4 linked regions of the Homo sapiens genome follow. The protein of the gene in region 4 interacts with the protein of the main gene of each other region in a pairwise test. Each region holds a gene or a part of one and is shown on either strand. Other genes may lie near its edges.

Region 1 (5,379 bases), on a different chromosome or scaffold from region 4:
GTGGCGGCTAGGCTGCCAGTTCTCACCAGGATTGCAGGCTCTTGGCTTTCTAGTCAGCTGAGGGGAGCAGGGATGGGAATAGGGCAAATGATAATTCCATAGCACTTGCTGTTCCTAAGAGATTCAGCAGCTTTTCGTGAATAAACGCTCCTCAGATTGCCGCAAGACTTTGGTTAATTTCCAGAATTCTAGAAAAATTGAGGTTAACAGGTTTTTTACCAGTGTTTTCATTGATTATATGAGTAGAGATTCTTTGGAGGTCCTTCCCATGCCAGTTTTGCTATGTCACTCTACAAGTGCTTTTTTGCCATGTTTTTAAAAGATAATAAGTTGAATTCATGACTTCCAAGGACCCCTCCCATTCTAGAGTGTTCAGTATTAATAGGTCTCATTCCCCAGCCATCCTAGGTGATAGAATTTACTGTACCATTTTAAAAATAAATGTGATTGTTTAAGATAAACTGAAATAGACTTTAAACAGTGCCAAGATATGAAACATGATAAACTGTACTTAATTATCAACCTCTGCCTTGTTTTATTCACAGATTTGAAAAGGAAACATTACTTTTCTGGCACAGTTTCTTAGCTTAAAATGAATTAGTCTAAAGAGGTAGGAGATCTTAAGCCAATATAGATACAATTTAAGCCCCAGAGACTATTGAAAGGGTAAAAATCAAGTAATTGACTGACAGCATTTCACAGAGTTGAATCATCGGCATATATATTTATTGAATGGCTTACTTTTTTGAATAACTAATACATTGTTATTAACTATAGTCACCACGTTGTATTGTAAACCTCTTGAACTTATTCCTCCTAACTGAAATTTTGTATCCTTGAATGGTTTACCTCTAAATCTTTTTTTTTTTTGAGACAAGGTCTCCCTCTGTTGCCCAGGCTGGAGTCCAGTGGGGCGATCTCAGCTCACTGCAACCTCTGCCTCCCGGGTTCAAGCAATTCTCATGTCTCAGCCTCCCGAGTAGCTGGGATTTCAGGCATGCACCACCATGCCCAGCTAATTTTTGTATTTTTAGTAGAGACAGTGTTTCACCATGATGGCCAGACTGGTCTCAAACTCTAAACCTCAAGTGATCTGCCCGCCTTGGCCTCCCAACGTGCTGGGATTACAGGCATGAGCCCCCACACCCAGCCAGTTTGCCTCTAATTCTGAAATCTATTATAATTATTATTACTAAAATATTAATATATTCATGCTAATTATTCACTAAAAGTCCATTTTTGTACTAAGTACCGAGCACATAGGTAAGGAATCAGCTAAACATGATCCAAGGCTGTTTTATATCAATTTCTTCAAAGATAGATGTGAGAAAATAGTGCCACATTATTTGGTAATGATGTTAAATGAAGTTGCCATGCAAATTAATTTTCCAGATGTCTGAAGCCAAACCTTTTTAACTTAACAAATTTTGAGGTGACTCTTCCCGAACTATGTAAAATATTTCTCTGCTTCATCAGGAAGCTAATGATCTAATGTCTCAGGAGCAAGTAATCATTTTGGACAGTTATCTCATTGTCCTGTAAAACAGTAGCAGCCACCTTGCTCTGTGCAGAAGTACTCACTGGTGACATAATGCTGTGCTTCTGGTGTTTTCATACTCTTTCATGAAGTGTTGTGCCTCGTACTTTTCCATTAATATCTGCTAATCATAGATTTTCCATCTATTTTTAATTTGATCTTTCTACTTTCTAATCTGTGAACTGACACATCAGACAAGAGATTGTACCTACTGGGTTCTTAACATGTATGAGGCACTATTCTAAGTGTTAAAATGTGTCTGTGCATTTAATCCTCCCAACATCTCAGACAGGTAAGCACTATTATCATCTATGTTTTTAGACAAGAAAACTGAAGCACAGAGAGATTAAGTAACTTGCCCCAAATGACATAGCAGTTCATGATCTTAACCATTATACTATACCGTTGAAGTGGCATCGTTCCTCTGGGGTAATACCCAAGGTTAGTTGTCTTAGGCCAAGGAAATCAAGGATGCGAACACACAAGGAGTGAGGTTAAGAGTGGAGGTTTAATAGGCACAAGAAAGAGAAGAACTCTCTCCTGCAGAGAGGGTTCCCGAGTGGGTTTTCCGGTCCACAGCAAAATGCAATAGGTTTTAAAGATGAGCTTGAGGAGGCGGAGTCTGATTTACACAGGGCACGAAAGATTGGTCAGATCAGGTGTACCATTCGCATAGTGCATGAAAATCTGGCCACCCCCCACCCTAATCTTTTATTGTGCAGATGGTCCTCTACTTGGCTGGCACCATATTACCTGTTTCTTTACTGTATACACAAAGACAAGGGACGATGGACCCTCCATGTTGAACATACGTGGCCCCCAGGTAGCCCTTTTCTGTTGGCACAGCTGCTGGCATTCACCTGTGCAAGCTTCCAGCTTGCTTGTCTATGTCTACAGCTCAATTTTTCAGGCAGTTCTATTAATGATTTTGGAGCTGCTTTTTGTTAAAAGGGAAATTCCACCGAGGACTCTTTTACCCTCACTATCTGCCTAAATAATTTCTATCTCCTGTATCACTGTGTCATATAAAGATGCTTATTAAAACAACACATAAACCTAAGAGTGAATGAGCTCTTATAGAATACTTGAGTGGAACTCTTTGTAAAATACTTAAATTTTGGTGAGTTGTCTTTGTGATGTCTATGTTAGTTTCCCACAGAATGTATGTCTATGTCTGTGTTTGTGCAAATTTCTTGTGTTTGTATCAAATAGGTTAAGGCGGCCAGAGAAGCGACTTTACCAAACCGGTGTTAAGTATTATTAAATCGTAAACATTGTGTGCCAGATCTGGCCTAATGCCTTTTTATGTGTTTGAAGTTTCACTGAAACCCAGCCACATTCATTCATTCACTTACCATCTATGGCTGCTTTCTTGTGACAGTGGCAGGGATGAGTAGTTGCCATAGAGACCATATGGCCCACAGAGCCCAAAATATTTACTATCTGTCTCTCTAAAAAAAGAAAACAAGTTTGTCAACCCCTGCTTTAGATGTTGGGTTTTATGTCAGTGGGCCTCAATTTCAGGTTTTGAGAAAGACAAAAGAAGGGGTTGGCTCATTGGAATCAGCTGGACAGGCTTTTCAAAAGCTACACACCTCCCTCTCTCCTTCTTCTCATCAGCTTTCCCTGAGAACCACTGTCTTAAACTTTATGATCCCAGTTAGTCTGATTTCATTAACTGATACAGATTGTTTGCTTTCATTAACTATTTTTGGCCTTCTGTAACATATCTAAAGTAATGTTGACCATGTATTTCTTTTACAGGGTTGTGGGAAGAAAATGTATTCCTTTTTGAGAGGAACCAAACAACTGCAGGTGCTGAGGTTTCTGGGAATCTCCATTGGGGTGACACAAATCCTGGCCATGATTCTCACCATTACTCTGCTCTGGGCTCTGTATTATGATAGAAGGGAGCCGGGGACAGACCAAATGATGTCCTTGAAGAATGACAACTCTCAGCACCTGTCATGTCCCTCAGTAGAACTGTTGAAACCAAGCCTGTCAAGAATCTTTGAACACACATCCATGGCAAACAGCTTTAATACACACTTTGAGATGGAGGAGTTATAAAAAGAAATGTCACAGAAGAAAACCACAAACTTGTTTTACTGGACTTGTGAATTTTTGAGTACATACTATGTGTTTCAGAAATATGTAGAAATAAAAATGTTGCCATAAAATAACACCTAAGCATATACTATTCTATGCTTTAAAATGAGGATGGAAAAGTTTCATGTCATAAGTCACCACCTGGACAATAATTGATGCCCTTAAAATGCTGAAGACAGATGTCATACCCACTGTGTAGCCTGTGTATGACTTTTACTGAACACAGTTATGTTTTGAGGCAGCATGGTTTGATTAGCATTTCCGCATCCATGCAAACGAGTCACATATGGTGGGACTGGAGCCATAGTAAAGGTTGATTTACTTCTACCAACTAGTATATAAAGTACTAATTAAATGCTAACATAGGAAGTTAGAAAATACTAATAACTTTTATTACTCAGCGATCTATTCTTCTGATGCTAAATAAATTATATATCAGAAAACTTTCAATATTGGTGACTACCTAAATGTGATTTTTGCTGGTTACTAAAATATTCTTACCACTTAAAAGAGCAAGCTAACACATTGTCTTAAGCTGATCAGGGATTTTTTGTATATAAGTCTGTGTTAAATCTGTATAATTCAGTCGATTTCAGTTCTGATAATGTTAAGAATAACCATTATGAAAAGGAAAATTTGTCCTGTATAGCATCATTATTTTTAGCCTTTCCTGTTAATAAAGCTTTACTATTCTGTCCTGGGCTTATATTACACATATAACTGTTATTTAAATACTTAACCACTAATTTTGAAAATTACCAGTGTGATACATAGGAATCATTATTCAGAATGTAGTCTGGTCTTTAGGAAGTATTAATAAGAAAATTTGCACATAACTTAGTTGATTCAGAAAGGACTTGTATGCTGTTTTTCTCCCAAATGAAGACTCTTTTTGACACTAAACACTTTTTAAAAAGCTTATCTTTGCCTTCTCCAAACAAGAAGCAATAGTCTCCAAGTCAATATAAATTCTACAGAAAATAGTGTTCTTTTTCTCCAGAAAAATGCTTGTGAGAATCATTAAAACATGTGACAATTTAGAGATTCTTTGTTTTATTTCACTGATTAATATACTGTGGCAAATTACACAGATTATTAAATTTTTTTACAAGAGTATAGTATATTTATTTGAAATGGGAAAAGTGCATTTTACTGTATTTTGTGTATTTTGTTTATTTCTCAGAATATGGAAAGAAAATTAAAATGTGTCAATAAATATTTTCTAGAGAGTAATGATTTGTCTCTGCCTACTTTTTAATACATTACAAGCACTTATGCCACTTGAGAAGATTGTCAAGGGGAGAAAAACATGAGAAAGAATGATTGCATAAAGTATTAATATTGATTTCCAAACTCCGGAATGGACCTATAAGAATATGTATTTTCACTGAGAAGAGTCAAAAAGATGCCCATTTTTCACTTTTGCTTTTTACCTAAATGTTAAATAATATACTTGTTTGAGATAATATAAAAATATGCCCATTTGTGTTCATCTTTTCAATGTTTGCATATCACAGTTTTATAACTTATTAATTTTTAAGAGACTATGAGTCTCTTAGTTAATTTCAAATTCTCTTCAAATGAGTTAAGGAATATAATCCTTGAAATTGACTGCCATGTTTAAAATCTTCCATAGATTTTAATGAAAACTGAGTACATTACTTGTTCAATCAGAGCCAAAAGCATCCCTTTTAATAACTTCCTCAATACCCCAAATCCCTGTAATTTCACCT
Region 2 (7,000 bases), on a different chromosome or scaffold from region 4:
TATACAAAATGCATACATTACACACATATATCCATCTCTCCTACTGGTGCTGCTTCTCTGAAGAACCCTGACTAATACAGTAGGTGCTTAAAAAAAATAGGTTGCTTTTAATGATTGCTAATTCTGTTATGTCAAAACTAAGCAAGAAATGATGTCTAAATGTAAAGCTGATTGAAATTATGTTGTTTAAGAGGTAGGAGGAAATGCCAATAATGACCTAAGTAGCACTTATTATTTGTATGCCATTCAGATGGTATATTTCATCTTCTAAAATGAGCATTTATAATAACATATGTGTGTATCAATTGTGGCAATATCATTACCTTAAACTCTGGGAAAGACATTTTTAAATTTATATTGATAACTACCTTCTATTTGTATAGTTCTTTAAAATTAAAGAATCATATTAATTGTACTATGATTTTACCATTCCCTAGTTATGATGAAATCACTGATATGCAAACCTGACTGTCTGCTAAAGTGGCTGAAGAAAGTGCTCAATGATTGCTTCTGCAACTTATAGAGGTGGTGAGGGGCTCTCACGAGCATAAGCCCAGGAGAAAGCCATCACTATGAGATTCCAGACACAAGGGAGGACTGTGAGCAGCCTCAAGATGTGAATAAGGAAAGATTCATGCCTGTAATTTCAGCACTTTGGGAGGACGAGGTAGGCAGATCTCTTGAGGTCAGGAGTTCAAGACCAGCCTGGCCAACATGGTGAAACCCCATCTCTATGAAAAATACAAAAATTAGCAGGGCATGGTGGTGGGCACCTGTAATCTCAGCTACTCGGGAGGCTGAGGCACAAGAAACGCTAGAACCTGGGAGGCAGAGGTTGCAGTGAGCTGAGATCTTGCCACTGCAATCCAGCCTGAGTGACAGAGCAAGACACTGTCTCAGAAAAAAGAAAAGAAAAAAAAAGAACATGCCACAAAAGCACATACTGCAGGTGGAGGAGGAAGAGAAGGAGATCTCCCCACTCTAGCAGGTGGGCTTACCAGTAGAGGAAGGGGGCAGTGGTGGCAGGGGAAGGACACAGCAAGTCCATTGTGACCCATGATTCTGGAGATGAACTACTTTCTGACAACATGAGTATGCCTTGAAATGATTCATAAGAAAAGATGCAGTCAGAAGAAATGGTATGTTTAGTTCCTTTAAGGTTCTAGGTAGGAATAAAGGACATAGGTCTCCAGGGGATTTTAATCTTTTGTTGTACAGGCCATGACTTTGAAGAGAAAAGAAGATGTAGGAAATGGACATTGGCCCAGGAAGGTGTCAAAGGACACAGTTGATTTTCTGGTCATGACTCTGAGCTACCAGACATTAAATAGCCATCAAGGAGCACCATGAAGACTACGAAGTCTATCAAATAACCCGGCTGGCAGAAGACTCGCCTCCTGATGAAGACTTTCAACTGAAATCTGAGTTGGGGAGGAAGACAGGCTCCATTACATTTACACTATGAAGGGCAATAAAAGATAAAATGCCCAATATTTTTTAGAAAACATAACAGGAAGACTACCAGGAACAGTATTTATAGGCACAGTTGTTTATTCACCAAGGTTTATTGAATAACTAGTTGCCCTGGAGACTGTAACAAATGAATGAGATCCAGGCCCCATATCAACTGGAAGTGTCTTCTCCAAAGCAAATGTCTGAGGGGCTCTCGACCACCCCCACCCTCACTGTCAAAAGTTTCAGCTCTGAGAAGGGAGAGAGATCCAGTCTCTTTAGAGGGCATCAGCAGGAAGTGATACTGTGGCATGGATAGTTTCATTTCTGGGCCATGCCAGAAACCCAGGTGTCTCCTTTCACTCACCCTCTCCATTTAAACCAGGCCGATCAATTAACCAGGCCTAATCACATCTCCTTTCTAAAGCTCTAAAGTCCACTCTCTTCCTCTGTTTCTTGAATAGAGGTAGTGAACTTGGTCACTACCCTTGACCAAGCTTATTATCTCCTGCCAGCCTCCTAACTGACAGTCCTTTCTCCAGTCTTTCTCTGGTCCCCATATACTACATCCCTTTCAAATGCAAATGTTATCTCATCACTGCCCTGCTGATAACTCTTCAAACTTGCCCATTGATCTTTAGCTAAAAGTCCAGCTTCTTAGCAGGGCCAGCCCCACGGACTTGCCCCTGCCTCTTCCTCCAGTGCCACTTCTTCCCAATGCCATCCTGTCCACTCAAACCCAGTTTCTACTAACTACTATACACTGTTTAGCTCCATGAATACACCATTGTCTCTGTCCTCTGAGTCTTTACACATGCTGTTCCCTGTCTCAAAACATTCTTCTACTCCCTTTGCCCTGGTCTCCCAATCCCACCTGGCTCACTCCTTCAGCGCAAAGGGTCAAATTTTTTAAATGTCAGGAGAATGTCACAAATGATGAAGGTAGGAAGCAGAGAGAGGAAAGCAGTGGTCCATGTGAAGCAGGAATCCTGGAGGAGGCCGGATTAGGAGTTCAACTATCAGAAAAGCTGAAGAAATTGCATGAGCAAGACCATGGAGGCAAGAAAAGTATTGGGCAAGCTGGAAAATTGAAGGCAGACAGATCTACCTGGTGCATAAGAGGTGGGGAAGAATGGATAAATGGGTAGCCAAGGGGAGAGGCTTGGTCCAGTGAAGCTAGAGAAGGTGAGAGGCCTTGAAAACCAAGCAAAGGAGTTTAGTCCTCGTTTTATAAACAACGGGAAAAACTTGAAACTGGGGAGTGCCGGTTTCTATTTTAGAAAGGCGTGGCCAACGAGTGCAGAGAAATGAGGTTGGAGAGATGAGTGATCTTAGAGGAAGATGAGGAGATGAGGGCCCAGACCAGGGTGGCAGCAGGAAGAACTGGCTGAGGTGATGGGTTCGGGAAAGATGTGGAGATCCAACCCCCTAGGCTCAATGTTCAATGACCGAATGCAGCAGTAGAGAGTGACTCGGGGATCAGAGGGGACCTGAGATCCTCGCCAGAGAAACTGGGAATATGGTGAGGCCCGTTGGCTGAGGTGGGAATCACAAAGGGGGAACAGGTTTGCCAAAGATAATGAATTAGTTTTGGAACATGTTGACTTCAGGGTGTAGGCTCTAGAAGCCCTCGTGCCTAATTAAAATCAGACACAGCCCTGGTTTCAGCATGCAGGGCGGTTCACAGAAACCACCTGTTAGAGTTCATTTTATTCTTCCTGGTGTCCTTGTGTTTCCATGACTCCTCTTTTTCATATCCCAATGAAGCAAAGTGAATTATTTGCTTTGCACGCCAAGAATGAGTTGTCAAAGCGCAGGTAGAGTGGACATGAGCGCCGGTGAGTAAGAGAAGAGCGGTTGTGCCGGGGCCAAAATTTTCACTAGGAAATTGTTTTTCTCCCTAAGTTTGTGTCAATCAGTCATAGTCTGTTTCTCTTCCTTTCAAGATTCCTCCCAAGTCCCAGTGCTGACCTGCCCTCATGAGCAACCTGAACACTCCAGACAACACTGCTTCTTCGCTCTGAGCCCCTGGGGCACTTTGAAGTTCACAGTGCGCACATTTTTCACATAGTTTTGTAGTTTCCTCTTTGCTTTTGAACTCTTTGCAGGTGTACATCTTGTCTCAACTAAATTCTTAACTCTTAAAGAGCCCAACTTATGTCAAACATTTTATTTTGCTGTTGTCACAGTGCCTAGTACAGTCCCAGGTGCATATTAAGTTTTCAAAAATACAAACGGGATTGAAACTGACATTGAATTCATTTGGCATAGAAAGGAGTGTGGAAAACAACCTCCTTGAAAGGACATAGTATGAGAGGAGATAAGCTTGATGCGGGGAGGGAGATAGCGTCAGTTCCTACCATGCAGAGGAACATATCCTAACATTAAAAAAAGGCTTTCCCTCTCGTAATAATAATGATTTTGCATTCTAAATATACTTGAAAGGACGAAAATACTGGTCTTCTAGTTGCCAAGTAAGTTGTCTTCTCAACTGGCTAAAACGTCTGTTTTCCTGAGACCACCTTTTGTGACAACAATATTGGTAATATAAAAATGTGGAACTTTCATTTATAGTGAATTACATGCCATAGTACTCCACACCACTTAAATGGCAAGACTGAGAGTGAATCTTTCACTTCCTTTTGGTTAGAGCTCCATTTGTGTGGCCATCATGATGTTTGGGTAACTTAAAAGGACAGTATTCATGACTCAGCTCGTAACATTTTCCCCAGGCAGAAGAGACGGGACAACCCCAAGTATTATGGTGGCCAGATTGTGTACTTGTCATATTGGAGGAAGATGTCTATGGAAGAGGTGAGGAGAGGAGGCAGGAAGCTGGTTTTGTAAATCAATGAATCTCAAAGATTTCCGGGGCTGTCCTGCCACCAGTGCCTGGCACTCTACCATCCACATCACATTTAATATGGATCCCTGCTCCCCAGACAGCAGGATACCCTTTACCCTTACAGGGCATTGGAATAATGGGACCACAACTTGTAGCTTTCAGTAGGAGACACAATTAAGAGGAGGAGGACGAGGAGTGGCTTGAAAGGAGGATGAGGGGATCAGGTGATGGGTATCCTAAAAGCCCAAACTTGACCACTACACAATCTATGCATTTTTAAAAATTGCACTTGTACCCCATATATTTATACAAATACAATAAAAATTAAAGCACATTGGGTTCTACTCTCTGGAGCAGCATGAAGCATGCCTCCGGAGGTCAGCAAAGATGAGGGGAAAAGACACTAACTAGAGTGCTTGCTTCACAGCTGTGCCAAGGACTTGACTCCCCATGCATTTTAGAGCATAACCTTCCCCCTTCTGAGGTTCCCATGGGATAGCAGGGTAAACAGCAGGAGAGCTCCTTCTCAGCCCTGGTGGCACCAACGCCCCTTGGCTCTGGGTCACATTCCTCCACAGACTTCACAGGCCTCAGGTTACAAAGGCCCTGTTGCACAATTCTTGGGAGAGTGGGCATGGGGGCTGGGCTGGGATGACAGGCAGTGTCCTGCGCGTGTCGGAGATCCAGTGTGGCCGCCTGCCAAGGCGCCTCAGGGGACGGCAGCAAGAGGAGACTCTGCTCTCTCAGGATCTTCAGAGAGGTAGCTTCCTTTTGCTTTTTTTCCTTCCAAGCCTCTTAAATAAAACTTGTCAAGGCTGCATCTTCTCCGGTAATTCAAGAGAAAACATTTCAAAAGTTTGCTTGGCATACCTGTGTTTCATTTTACTGGAGAGATTTGAAACTTCAAAACCGCAAAAACCCCATCGTCTCAGCCCAAAATCTCCTTAAGCTGATAAGCAACTTCAGCAAAGTCTCAGGATACAAAATCAATGTACAAAAATCACAAGCATTCTTATACACCAACAACAGACAAACAGAGAGCCAAATCATGAGTGAACTCCCATTCACAATTGCTTCAAAGAGAATAAAATACCTAGGAATCCAACTTATAAGGGATGTGAAGGACCTCTTCAAGGAGAACTACAAACCACTGCTCAAGGAAATAAAAGAGGACACAAACAAATGGAAGAACATTCCATGCTCATGGGTAGGAAGAATCAATATCGTGAAAATGGCCATACTGCCCAAGGTAATTTACAGATTCAATGCCATCCCCATCAAGCTACCAATGACTTTCTTCACAGCATTGGAAAAAACTAAAGTTCATATGGAACCAAAAAAGAGCCCGCATCGCCAAGTCAATCCTAAGCCAAAAGAACAAAGCTGGAGGCATCACACTACCTGACTTCAAACTATACTACAAGGCTACAGTAACCAAAACAGCATGGTACTGGTACCAAAACAGAGATATAGATCAATGGAACAGAACAGAGCCCTCAGAAATAATGCCGCATATCTACAACTATCTGATCTTTGACAAACCTGAGAAAAACAAGCAATGGGGAAAGGATTCCTTATTTAATAAATGGTGCTGGGAAAACTGGCTAGCCATATGTAGAAAGCTGAAACTGGATCCCTTCCTTACACCTTATACAAAAATCAATTCAAGATGGATTAAAGATTTAAACGTTAGACCTAAAACCATAAAAACCCTAGAAGAAAACCTAGGCATTACCATTCAGGACATAGGCGTGGGCAAGGACTTCATGTCCAAAACACCAAAAGCAATGGCAACAAAAGCCAAAATTGACAAATGGGATCTAATTAAACTAAAGAGCTTCTGCACAGCAAAAGAAACTACCATCAGAGTGAACAGGCAACCTACAACATGGGAGAAAATTTTCGCAACCTACTCATCTGACAAAGGGCTAATATCCAGAATCTACAATGAACTCAAACAAATTTACAAGAAAAAAACAAACAACCCCATCAAAAAGTGGGCGAAGGACATGAACAGACACTTCTCAAAAGAAGACATTTATGCAGCCAAAAAACACATGAAGAAATGCTCATCATCACTGGCCATCAGAGAAATGCAAATCAAAACCACTATGAGATATCATCTCACACCAGTTAGAATGGCAATCATTAAAAAGTCAGGAAACAACAGGTGCTGGAGAGGATGTGGAGAAATAGGAACACTTTTACACTGTTGGTGGGACTGTAAACTAGTTCAACCATTGTGGAAGTCAGTGTGGCGATTCCTCAGGGATCTAGAACTAGAAATACCATTTGACCCAGCCATCCCATTACTGGGTATATACCCAAAGGACTATAAATCATGCTGCTATAAAGACACATGCACACGTATGTTTATTGAGGCACTATTCACAATAGCAAAGACTTGGAACCAACCCAAATGTCCAACAATGATAGACTGGATTAAGAAAATGTGGCACATATACACCATGGAATACTATGCAGCCATAAAAAATGATGAGTTCATGTCCTTTGTAGGGACATGGATGAAATTGGAAACCATCATTCTCAGTAAACTATCGCAAGAACAAAAAACCAAACACCGCATATTCTCACTCATAGGTGGGAATTGAACAATGAGATCACATGGACACAGGAAGGGGAATATCACACTCTGGGGACTGTGGTGGGGTCGGGGGAGGGGGGAGGGATAGCATTGGGAGA
Region 3 (4,569 bases), on a different chromosome or scaffold from region 4:
TGTTCCAGAGAATCCAGGAGTCCTGCCAAAGTGGCACCAAGTGGCTGGTGGAGACCCAGGTGAAGGCCAGGAGGCGGAAGAGAGGAGCACAGAAGGGCAGTGGATCCCCAACTCACAGCCTGAGCCAGAAGAGCACCCGGCTGTCTGGAGCCGCCCCTGCCCACTCAGCCGCAGACCCCTGGGAGAAGGAGCATCACCGCCTCTCTGTCCGGATGGGCTCACATGCCCACCCATTACGGCGATCAAGGCGGGAGGCTGCCTTCCGGAGCCCCTACTCCTCAACAGAGCCCCTCTGCTCTCCCAGGCAAGTGGGATAGTGCTTCACCCCGGGGCTGGTGGCCTTTTAACCTGGGCACAATCCCTGCTGTCTGACCTCCCAGACACCAACTGGGCCCTAGGGGTTTCTTGGCACCCCCTGTGGCTACCTGGAGCCAGGGGCACCCTGAGCAGCGTCATATTGTATTATTATTATTCTTACTGTTAAATGTGTGTCCTGCTTTAGCAGATATCCAGTGCATGTATTTGCTCATCAGAAAATGAGAAAACAGGCTGGGCGCAGTGGCTCACACCTGTAATCCCAGCACTTTGGGAGGCCGAGGCGGGTGGATCACCTGAGGTCAGGAGTTGGAGACCAGTCTGGCCAACATGGTGAAACCTCATCTCTACTAAAAATACAAAATTGGCTGGGCGTGGTGGTGCACGCCTGTAATCCCAGCTCCTTGGGAGGTTGAGGCAGGAGAATCGCTTGAACTCGGGAGGTGGAAGTTGCATTGAGCTGAGATCGCGCCACTGCACTCCAGCCAGGGCCACAGAGCCAGACCCTGTCTCAAAAAAAAAAAAAAAAAAAAGAGAGAGAGAAAGAAAACAAAACAACAACTAGATTCCTAAGGATTGTATTTCAACTTTCCGGCTGAGTTCTAGGGGGAAATGGAGTGTGTTAGTTAAGGCTGCATAGTAGCTTAGGGCTGTTGAATTTTTCCCCAGATTTCTTTGAGGGCTAGCATCTTTCTTTAGCCTAATAGGAACTTTGAGCTGTAATTAAGGCAGGCTCTGTTTGTCCCATTTGACAGGTAAGGAAACGGAGGTCCGGAGGGGTTTGGTGATTAGCCTGAGGGTCATCCTGTAAGAAATAGAGGAGTAAAGGCTGGGGTCCAGATCATCTGGATGTTCTGCCCCACCGATCAAGCTGGCCTGCCTTGCAGAATCTTCTAGTTCTCAGACAGGCCCAGAAAGTGGCCTGGCTCAGGGCAGGGGGTGAAGCTCATCCCAATCGGCAGTCCCTGGCAGTTTCCTGGTCCCATCTCGGAGCTCTCAGGGAAGGCTGCCTAGCCGCTGCACCTGTGTTGTGGCAGGTAGTCACCAGGATGCATGTAAGTGACCAGGTGGCTCTTTGCAAACCTGTAAGCTAAAATAAGGCTTGTGTACACTTCAAAAATACTCTCCACATCTGTATTCTGACCCGGTTCCGCGTCCAGAGCCAGCAGGGGACCTGAGAAAATCCTTTAGGACCTTAGTTTCTCTGTCCGTAAAGGAAGAGCTGAGTTTAGTTCTGACACAATCACACTCACCCAAGCCTCCTAGTGAGCCCAGAAGCAAGTTTTGAAGCCACCTGGAGAGCTGAGGCTCAGTTTCCAAGTGGGGAAGCTGCAAAATCACTTGCCCGTGACCTTGGCCTCGTGGATCTTGATCTTCTCTCTGTTTGTCGCTCTGAGGTCACCTCCTGGAGTGAGGGTCTGGAGTGAAGCCCAGCCCGCCAGGGTCATCTGGGCCCACAGACCACACCCCGGTACCGGGTTGCAAGGGTCTCCTGCCGGGAGTTTCCAACTAGTCACTGGTGTGGCTTTTTCTTTCATGCAGCGAGTCTGACAGTGACCTAGAGCCTGTGGGGGCGGGAATTCAGCATCTCCAGAAGCTGTCCCAAGAGCTAGATGAAGCCATTATGGCGGAAGAGAGGTGAGTTGGCATCCCATGCTTCAAAGTGAAGGGGCCGGGAGGGCCCCTCCAGCCATCTTTGTAGGCAGGCGTTGGTTCTGCTCTGACCTGCTGTGTGACCCTGGCCAGTCTCTGCCCCTCTCTGGGCCTCAGTCTCCCTCATCTCAAACATGAGAAAGGACAAAATCCTGGACTGGGGTGATGGTAAAGGATGTAGCCTGAATGTGTGTGGTCTTCTGGGCCTTGGGACCCCATGTTTGTCCATCACTTGGAACCTCACGTGTGGCTGGTTCCTGAAAAACCTGCCCTTCCTCCAGAACTCTCCGTGGCTCGTCTGTGCCCTGCCTGCCTATGGAATTGGGAAAAGCAACCTGACTGCTATGGAGTTCCTGGTCTGTCTGCTCATGGCCCCATCCTGGGGGCAGGGCCTCGGTTGTGGACCTCCCCTAACTTGGGGCTGTTTCCCCATTCCACTTGTATAATGGCCATGATGGGCTCTAAGGCTGGGCCCTGCCAGCTCTATGTGTTGAGGGGCCATATTCCTACCACATTTCCGGGTCTGATCTTGTGTAGCTCAGGCTGGGAGGGCCCTCTCAGAGCCCACCACACCCAGTGGCATCAATCCCTCCCCTTCTCTCTAGTGGTGACATCGTCTCTCTCATTCATGACTGAGGAAGTGCCTGCAGGTAATGCCCACCTCCCAAGAGTCTTTCTCACTGTCCTTCTCCTCCATCTCATGCATGAGCAAGTTAAAGAAAAAGCCCACAGAGCTGATGGGCACAGCAGAGTAGGTAGTACCTACTTGCCGCTTGAAGCCAGAGCTGCTAACCTCACTGACCCCGTCATTAACAGCACGCTGGGGGCCCCAAGTAGCTACAGCCACCTTCCAGCACCCCCCACCCCGCAGTGAGCAGGGAAAGGCATCCCTACTTCTCCTACCTTGAGCACAGTGAAAAAGGCAGCTCTGTCTTGAAGGAAACAAGCCCTGTCTGACCGCCAAGGCTTCATACTCAAGGATGTCTATGCTTCCCCGTGAGCTTCCTGGAAAAAACCCCCGGGAGTCGTCAGTACCCCTGGGCCACTGCTAACAAGCACCTAACAAGGGGCCCAGAGCCCCCTGCTCCAGCCACATCTGGACCCATCAGTGACTGCCTGCCATAGCCTGAGAGTGTCTTGGGGAGACCTTGCAGAGGGGGAGAATTGTTCCTTCTGCTTTCCTAGGGGACTCTTGAGCTTAGAAACTCATCGTACACTTGACCTTGAGCCTTCTATTTGCCTCATCTATAACATGAAGTGCTAGCATCAGATATTTGAGAGCTCTTAGCTCTGTACCCGGGTGCCTGGTTTTTGGGGAGTCATCCGCAGAGTCACTCACCCACTGTGTTTCTGGTGCCAAGGCTCTTGAGGGCCCCACTCTCATCCCTCCTTTCCCTACCAGGGACTCGGAGGAAGGCATAGGAGATATTTCCAGGCTTACGACCCTGGGCTCACGGGTACCTATTTATATGCTCAGTGCAGAGCACTGTGGATGTGCCAGGAGGGGTAGCCCTGTTCAAGAGCAATTTCTGCCCTTTGTAAATTATTTAAGAAACCTGCTTTGTCATTTTATTAGAAAGAAACCAGCGTGTGACTTTCCTAGATAACACTGCTTTCTCATAATAAAGACTATTTGCATTTGACATCTGTTCCCTTTCACCGGCAACCTCCAACCTCCCCCGCCCTCCCACACCACTCTGGGCTATAGATTTGTAATTTGTGGTTTGGGGTCTGGCCCTCATCCACCTCTGCTCCGAGCCAGTCTGCCCCCAATCCCACCCCAGGGAGAACATGTAGAAAGGGAAAGGTTTCTCAACTTAGTTCAGACCAAAACACATTGTAAAGGCAAAGAAGGTTTTTATTTAAGTGACAACATTTGAGAGCTAAAAACCAGCTCACATCAAAATCAAGACCCAGTTGTAAAAATCTTTTAACTCCATAATGCTGTTTTTGTCTTGTTAGAAATCTGATATCTTACATTAGCGTTTCTAACGGATTTTGTACAAGGCAGCCATAAGGAATATAATAAACCTTTTTCACCACAGAACCATCTGTCACAGATAATACTGAAAGTTACACACTTAGGAACAGTCAGACCACAGACAAGGTCAGACTGGCTGCCACCACCAAGTAAACAACTAGAAAAGGACAGCGGGGTCCAAGGGTGGGGGTCCCTGTGCACGAGTCGCCCTCCTCTGGCCTGCCCCCCCTCGGGTCACCTGTTTCTCCTTTGCCCCAAAGAGGGTGGAGTCAAATGCAGATTTTCCTCCCAACTGCCTGTTAGTGTCTCAACAAGGAGAGCAGAGCCCAGGTCAGGCCTCACTGCTTGGACTTAACCCTAACTATGATTTTTACGAAGGTTTCCCCCAAGCCCGGAAGGAAAGGAAGGAGGGAATGTTTCTTTTGGCTGAGCCAAAAGACAATAGGTTTCCAGGGCACTTGGCACCCAAACCCCCCCCCCCCGCCCGCCGATGGGATTCGGTGGGAAAGTTGGTTGTTTAAGGCGGGGTCAGGGCACCCCTCCCGGGGCTGCACCTGGGCTAGGGGGGAGAGTGAGGATGCAGAGGACCCACGTGCCTCATGAAAGACTCCAGGGCACAG
Region 4 (7,054 bases):
CCGCTGGACACAGAATCCATGTGATACTGTGTCCCTCAAGGCTTAGGAGAAGTAAATTCTGACCAGTTTGGAAGTGATGAATTTTTAAGATTAAAAATTATGAACTGAAATTGTCACCAAAAGAAATCTTTTTACCTCTGTGAGTATGGTTGTCTCATAGGAAGGCTGATATTTCTCCTTTTCATGAGGTGTTCGTTTCTCCATTTTTTCCCTATCCGTTTTTTGCTTTCTGTCTGCACCTTTGGGCTGAAATGAGAAATATTTTGTTTTAAATTCAGGTACTCACCTTTTAACCCAAAATATTGCTTCCAAAAACTTAAATATTCATGTATGAAACAAAATTGTATGTGCAGTGATGTAAAGGCAAGACACATCACTTTAAGTTTGAAAATAGGAAATTTAAATGTTTATATTCGATGGAGTTGAAAAGAATCAGATCTATAGCTACTGACATGGAAAGATCTCTAAAGCACATAGTTCACTGAAAAAAATCAAGTCTCAAAACATTTCTTTCTTTTTTTTTTGAGACGGAGTCTCATCCTGTCACACAAGCTGGAATGCGGTGGCGAGATCTTGGCTCACTGCAACCTCCGCCTCCAGGGTTCAAATTATTCTCCTGCCTCAGCCTCCCCAGTAGCTGGGACTACAGGCGTCCGCCACCACACCCAGCTAATTTTTTATCTTTAGTAGAGACGGGGTTTCACCATTTTGGTCAGGCTGGTCTTAAACTCCTGACCTTGTGATCCGCCCACCTCGGCCTCCCAAAGTGCTGGGATTACAGGCATGAGCCACCGTGCCTAGCCTCAAAACATTTCAAATAGTATAATCCCATTTATGTGTCAAAGAAAATATGTATATAGCTATGTATGTGTGTGTATAAAAGCATAGGAAGGAACTAGAAGAGCTGGGCGCAGTGGCTCATGCCTGTAATCCCAGCACTTTGGGAGGCCGAGGCAGGCGGATTGCCTGAGGTCAGGAGTTCGAGACCAGCCTGGCCAACATGGCGAAACCCTGTCTCTACTAAAAATACAAAAAATTAGCTGGGCATGGTGGTGTGTGCCTGTAGTCCTAGGTGCTGGGGAGGCTGAGGCGTGAGAACAGCTTGAACCCAGGAGACGGAGGTTGCAGTGAGCTGGCACTGCACCACTGCATTCCAGCCTGGGTGACAGAGTGAAACTCCGACTCAAAAAAAAAAAAGAAGAGGGAAGTAGAAGAACACATACGAAATTATGAAATTATGACAGTGGTTTCCTCTGGGAAGAGGTTGTGGAGGGGGTCAGTGTAAGAGTAGTAAAGGGAGAATTTCAGTGTTGCTATGAATACCTCTGTATTATTCAATCTCTTACAATGAGAACATATTTATTCATGTGATAAAAATAAACAGGACCCTGGCTGGGGCACAGTGGCTTACACCTGTAATCCCAGTACTTTGGGAGGCCAAGGAGGGCAGATAACTTAAGCCCGGGAGTTCAAGGCCAGCCTGGGCAACATGGCAAGACCCCCTCTCTATAAAAAATACAAAAATTAGCCCGGTGTGGTGGCACATGCCTGTAGTCCCACTTACTGGGGAAGCTGAGGCAGGAAGATCAATTGAGCCCAGGAGGTTAAACTATGATTGCGTCACTGCACTCCAGCCTGGGTGACAAAATGAAACCCAGTCTCAAAAATAAATAAATAAATAAATAAGACCAAATAAGAAAAGATCAAGTATGAAAATAACCATAACTAGTCAATTTTTGTGAGCTTTACAAGAGCTTGTAACTTCAATAGGCTTTAAGAGCTTTCAATGAGAATCCATGTTCTTGCCTCTAGCCCTCTTTTCCAAGTTCCTATTATCCTACGACCATGTAAATTTCTTTACCAGGCATCTTGGTAATTATTTCAATGACTCTAGCTTAGACTTTTTGCGTGTGTGTGAGTTTTCAAAAAAAGACAAGTTGATTTTCTGACTTGGTAACTAATGTTAAAATAGAATGATAAGGTAAAAGAATCCAAGGGCCAGCACATTGCCCAGGAATACCTTGAAAACTTTGATCTGGCAGCTGGCCGAGTGTAAGTGCTCAGTATATTCCCCGTTTTCATTCTCCTTGAAGGTATCTATTTGTACTCGGAATGGCACCCCCTTTTCTCCACCATGTTTCCTCATAGTGAACTCTGTGCTAATACAGTGCACCTGAAAAGAATACAACAGCAAGGCTTCAGTACCGCTAGCTAGCCAAACCAGTTGGCAGTATTTTTTTAGCAACTATTAACAGCAAAACCTTTACCAGGCATTATGAATACCTACAAAAAACACTTTTCCTCTTTTTGATCTTGAAGAACTTACAATCTGATAGAGGAAATAGAAAAATGCTTTACAAATGCAAACAAAATAAAAGTACAGATCTAATGCTAACAAAAGCTACTGTGAGGAACTAAATTCATTAACTGCTTCAAAGAACACAGAGCTAGCAAAAGAGAAATGATTTATGTTAGTTAAAGTTTCCTCAATTTTAAGGAAGATTGTAGAAAGAGGAGTCACTACCCAGTCTGGGAACATAGTAAATATGAAAGTTCACAGCAATAGTGGAGAAAAAGGTTTGCTTGGCTACTGCATAAAGTCTAAGATTGGTGAATTTTTTTTTTTTTTTTTTTTGAGACTAAGTTTTGCTCTTGTCACCCAGGCTGGAATGCAATGGCACAATCTCGGCTCACCGCAACCTCCACCTCCCCGGTTCAAGCAATTCTCCTGCCTCAGCCTCCCAAATAGCTGGGATTACAGGCACACACCACCACGCCCTGCTAATTTTTGCATTTTTAGTAGAGACAGGTTTTCGCCATGTTGGCCAGGCTGGTCTCGAACTCCTGACCTCAGGTGATCTGCCTGCCTCGGCCTCCCAAAGTGCTGGGATTACAGGTGTGAGCCACGGCACCCAGCCTGGTGAATCTTAATAGAAGAACCTTGTCTGACTGACTACTCCACAAGATTATAGCTGAAAGTCTTAAAATCATATATATAAAGTGTTTACTTAACATAGTGACTATTTCATGTGAAGTATTAATAAACTAGTGGTTACTATAATTACTACAAATAAGGATTTTCAAGGACTCTACCCAAAGAACATAATCAGATACGCAAATCAAATTTTAAGTATAAATATGTTCAAAATAACATCACAGATAATAGTAAAAAATCAGGCCAATCAAGGCCGGGCATGGTGGCTCACACCTATAATCCCAGCACTTTGGGAGGCCAAGGTGGGTGGGTCACCTGAGGTCAGGAGTTCAAGACCAGCCTGGCTAGCATGGCGAAATCCCACCTCTACCAAAAATACAAAAATTAGCCAGGCATGGTGACATGCGCCTCTAGTCCCAGCTACTGGTGAGGCTGAGGCAAGAGAATCGCTTGAACTGGGAGGCAGAGGTTGTAGTGAGCCGAGATTGCACCACTCCACTCCAGATTGGGAGACAAAGCCTAGACACTGTCCCCCCCCAAAAAAATTATGCCAATCTAACTGCCAAATAATTGTTATGTAAATTATGGTACAACCAAGAAATGAAATATTATGCAGCCATTACCAAGCAATTTTGGGAGACACAAATAAATAAACTGGGGTATTAGAAGAGCAATTCAGAAACTCCTCAATGCTCTCAGGCACAGGTTAAAGAGCCTGGGCTTGACAGTCAGGCTAGAACCCTGTAAAGATTTCAAAGTTAACATGTTTTATCCTTTAAGAAATAAACTGATAGTAAGAGAGATACTCTTCAAAACTGGAACCCTATCTGCAACGCCTTACCTGAATAAACACAGATGTCCTCTTTGCAGGGTCCCACAGGAACTCCACTGTATTTAGTTGAGTTGGATTAGCCCTAGGATCGATTATACCCACAGACATCGGGATATCTGAGAAACAAAATGGTAATCATTGAACAATTTTGAGGGCCACTCAGTTTTAAATAAGAAAGCATTGATTCTTATATTACTCAATGTAGCTACCAAGATTTTTGTATATCACATCCTAAATTTCTTTGTTTTTTTTTTTTGTCGTTGTTGTTGTTTTTTATGGAGTCTTGTTCTGTTGCCCAAGCTGGAGTGCAGTGGTAACAGGCCTGGAGTGCAGTGGCACCATCTCAGCTCACTGCAACCTCTGCCTCCTGGGTTCAAACGATCCTCCTGCCTCTGCCTCCTGAGTAGCTGGGATTACAGGCCCGTGCCACCACGCCCGGCTAATTTTTTTGTATCTTTAGTAGAGATGGGGTTTCACCATGTTGGCCATGCTGCTCTCAAACTCCTGACCTCAGGTTATCCACCCACCTTGGCCTCCTAAAGTGCTGGGATTACAGGCTTGAGCCACTGTGCCCAGCCCACACCTTAAATTTCTTTTTTGTCAATGAAAATATTTGATTAGAGTAAAATTGACTTAAGTACTTTGCTTGAGCACCTTTTTTCCTCTTTAAAAAGTTTTTAAAATACGGCAATTAAAAAAATTATTTGGCCAGGCACGGTGGCTCACACCTGTAATCCCAGCACTTTGGGAGCCCAAGGCAGGCGGATCATGATGTCAGGAGTTCGAGACCAGCCTGACCAACATGACGTAACCTCATCTCTACTAAAAATACAAAAATTAGCCGGCCGTGGTGGCCCACACCTGTAATCCCAGCTACTCAGGAGGCTGAAGCAGGAGAATTGCTTGAACCTGGGAGGTGGAGGTTGCAGTGAGCCGGAGATCGAGCCACTGCACTCCAGCCTGGGTGACAAAGCAAGACTTCATCTCAAAAAAAAAAATTATTTTTAGGCCAGGCGTGGTGGCTTACACCTGTTATCCCAGCACTTTGGGAGGCCAAGGTGAGCGGATCACCTGAAGTCAAGAGTTCAAGACCAGCCTGGCCAACATGGCGAAACCCCGTCTCTACTAAAAAATACAAAAATTAGCCAGGCATGGTAGTGGGCATCTGTAATCCCAGCTACCTGAGAGGCTGAGGCAGAGAGAACTGCTTGAACCAGGGAGGCGGAGGTTGCAGTGAGCCAGTATTGCGCCACTGTGCTCCAGCCTGGGTGACAGAGCAAGACTGTCTCGAAAAACAAAAAAATCATTTTTAAATTGAGAAATAATAATTGTACATATTCATGGGCTATATAGTGATGTTTCAATACATATAATGCATAGTGATCAGATCAGGGTAATCAGCATATTCATTGTCTCAAACATCTGTCATTTCTTTGTGTTGGGAATGTTTAGTATCCTCCTTCTAGCTTAAAATATGGCAATTTAAAGGCAGTTTCCTTTTAATTTGTTAAAATCCTATTTAAGGTGGATTAAGTCTACACTATCATGAAAACTGTAATTTATAATCTATTTCAACTACAGTTTGAAAATTAGTTTCATTGCCAAAAGCACATTAAGAGTATTGCTATTGAAGGGGTGCAGCAGAGTGTCTATATGAAGGTAGAAAGCATTATATCATGAATGAAAGTGGGAAAATTTTAACATAAAGATTGATGCAGGCCAAGCGTGGTGGCTCACGCCTGCAATCCCAGTACTTTGGGAGGCCAAGGCGGGTGGATCATTTGAGGTCAGGAGTTCGAGACCAGCCTGGCCAACATGGTGAAAACTTGTCTCTACTACAAATATAAAAATTAGCTGGGCGTGGTTGTGGATGCCTATAATCCCAGCTACTCAGGAGTCTGAGGCATGAGAATGGCTTGAACCCGGGAGACAGAGGTTGCAGTGAGCCGAGATCATGCCATTGTACTCCAGCCTGGATGACAGAGCAAGACTCTGTCTCAAAAAAAAAAAAAAAAAGATGGTTGATGCTGACTTACCAAGTCATCAAATAATCCTATAACAGAGTGACAAATCTTTACTTAAAAGGGAAGCAAGAATTAATGGGTTTGAGTAGAACTTTTCTTTCCATTCCACACAGCAGATATTCAAATAGCATTCCCTGATTTCTCCTATTAATGATCAAACTGGGGAGTTAAGGCCAGGTAATATGTATTATCAGAACTGTGGTATTAACTATACTACTGTTTTGGTATCAATGATTCAAACAATAGAGCATCAAGTGGGTCCCACTCCACAATATTAGTTGTGTTAGATTCATCTTAAGGTCAACTTATCATACAGATATCAGGATCACTGCATGAGAACCAATGTTTTCTCAGGTAAAATTAGTAGCAGTTAAATTTTTCTTAACAACTATGTTTACCAAAAGGAAATTTTAACCAATTAGAAATCAGAGAGGCAGACACCATGAAAAGTGACTGCATGTGTATTTGTGAAGATCTTTCCTTTATACCCTATGACTTAGGAAAAACAAATTCTACTCTGTGTAGCAACGTGGGAAGACACAACTTAACTGCAAACCAAGTGACATAGCTTCTAATACCAGAACTCCCACTTTATAGTGCCTGGTTCTCAGGCACTAGTAAAATGAAGGAACTTTCAGCATGCTGGGGAAAAAAGTCTGCCCCTCTTTACAAACGCAAAACAAAATATCAGATCCTGAGCAGCCAAAACAATCGTGAAATAGAACAAAGTTGGAGTTCTCATGCTTCACGACTTCCAAACTGACTATAAAGCTACACTTAGCAAAATAGTGAGGTATAGGCATAAAGACAGACATTTAAACAAATGGAATAGAATAGACAGCCTACAAATAAGTATTCAAATATATGGTCAAATGAGTTTTGACAAGGGTGCAAGACCATTCAGTGGGGGAAAGAACAGTCTTTTCAACAAACGGTGTGGAGAAAACTGGGTATCCACATGCAAAAGAATGAAGTTGGGCCCTTCTTTCTGTATATGGTTTACCATACAACCTTTTTTGTATATGGTTGTACCATATACAAACACGAACTCAAAATGGACCTGTGACCTGAATATAAGACCTAAAACTATAAAACTCTTAGGAGAAAACATATGGGAAAAGCTTCTTGGCACTGAATTTGGCAATGATTTCTTGGATGTGGCACCAAAAGCACAGGGAATTAAAAAAAATTAGATAAATTGGACCACCTCAATGTAAAACTTTAGTGCATCAAAGGATAGTATCAACACAGTAAAAAAGCAAC

The links.
Region 1: the proteins of TFCP2 (region 4) and TSPAN12 interact in binary tests that used the Homo sapiens proteins (3 or more experiments, as listed by UniProt).
Region 2: the proteins of TFCP2 (region 4) and DNAJC5B interact in binary tests that used the Homo sapiens proteins (3 or more experiments, as listed by UniProt).
Region 3: the proteins of TFCP2 (region 4) and PIMREG interact in binary tests that used the Homo sapiens proteins (3 or more experiments, as listed by UniProt).

Annotation. Positions count from the first base shown.
Region 1 is NC_000007.14:120,786,820-120,792,198, reverse strand, and holds the end of TSPAN12 (tetraspanin-12), read left to right. Parts: intron 1-3,301; coding exon 3,302-3,607; 3' UTR 3,608-4,879; downstream 4,880-5,379. UniProt on the Homo sapiens protein: Regulator of cell surface receptor signal transduction. Plays a central role in retinal vascularization by regulating norrin (NDP) signal transduction.
Region 2 is NC_000008.11:66,024,553-66,031,552, reverse strand, and holds part of DNAJC5B (dnaJ homolog subfamily C member 5B), read right to left. Parts: intron 1-7,000.
Region 3 is NC_000017.11:6,447,455-6,452,023, forward strand, and holds the end of PIMREG (protein PIMREG), read left to right. Parts: intron 1-8; coding exon 9-304; intron 305-1,568; exon of another isoform or gene 1,569-1,857; coding exon 1,858-1,953; intron 1,954-2,249; coding exon of another isoform or gene 2,250-2,307; exon of another isoform or gene 2,308-2,573; coding exon 2,574-2,604; 3' UTR 2,605-2,618; exon of another isoform or gene 2,619-2,907; coding exon of another isoform or gene 2,908-2,968; 3' UTR 2,969-4,015; downstream 4,016-4,569. UniProt on the Homo sapiens protein: During mitosis, may play a role in the control of metaphase-to-anaphase transition.
Region 4 is NC_000012.12:51,107,101-51,114,154, forward strand, and holds part of TFCP2 (alpha-globin transcription factor CP2), read right to left. Parts: intron 3,884-7,054; coding exon 3,777-3,883; intron 2,174-3,776; coding exon 2,021-2,173; intron 247-2,020; coding exon 136-246; intron 1-135.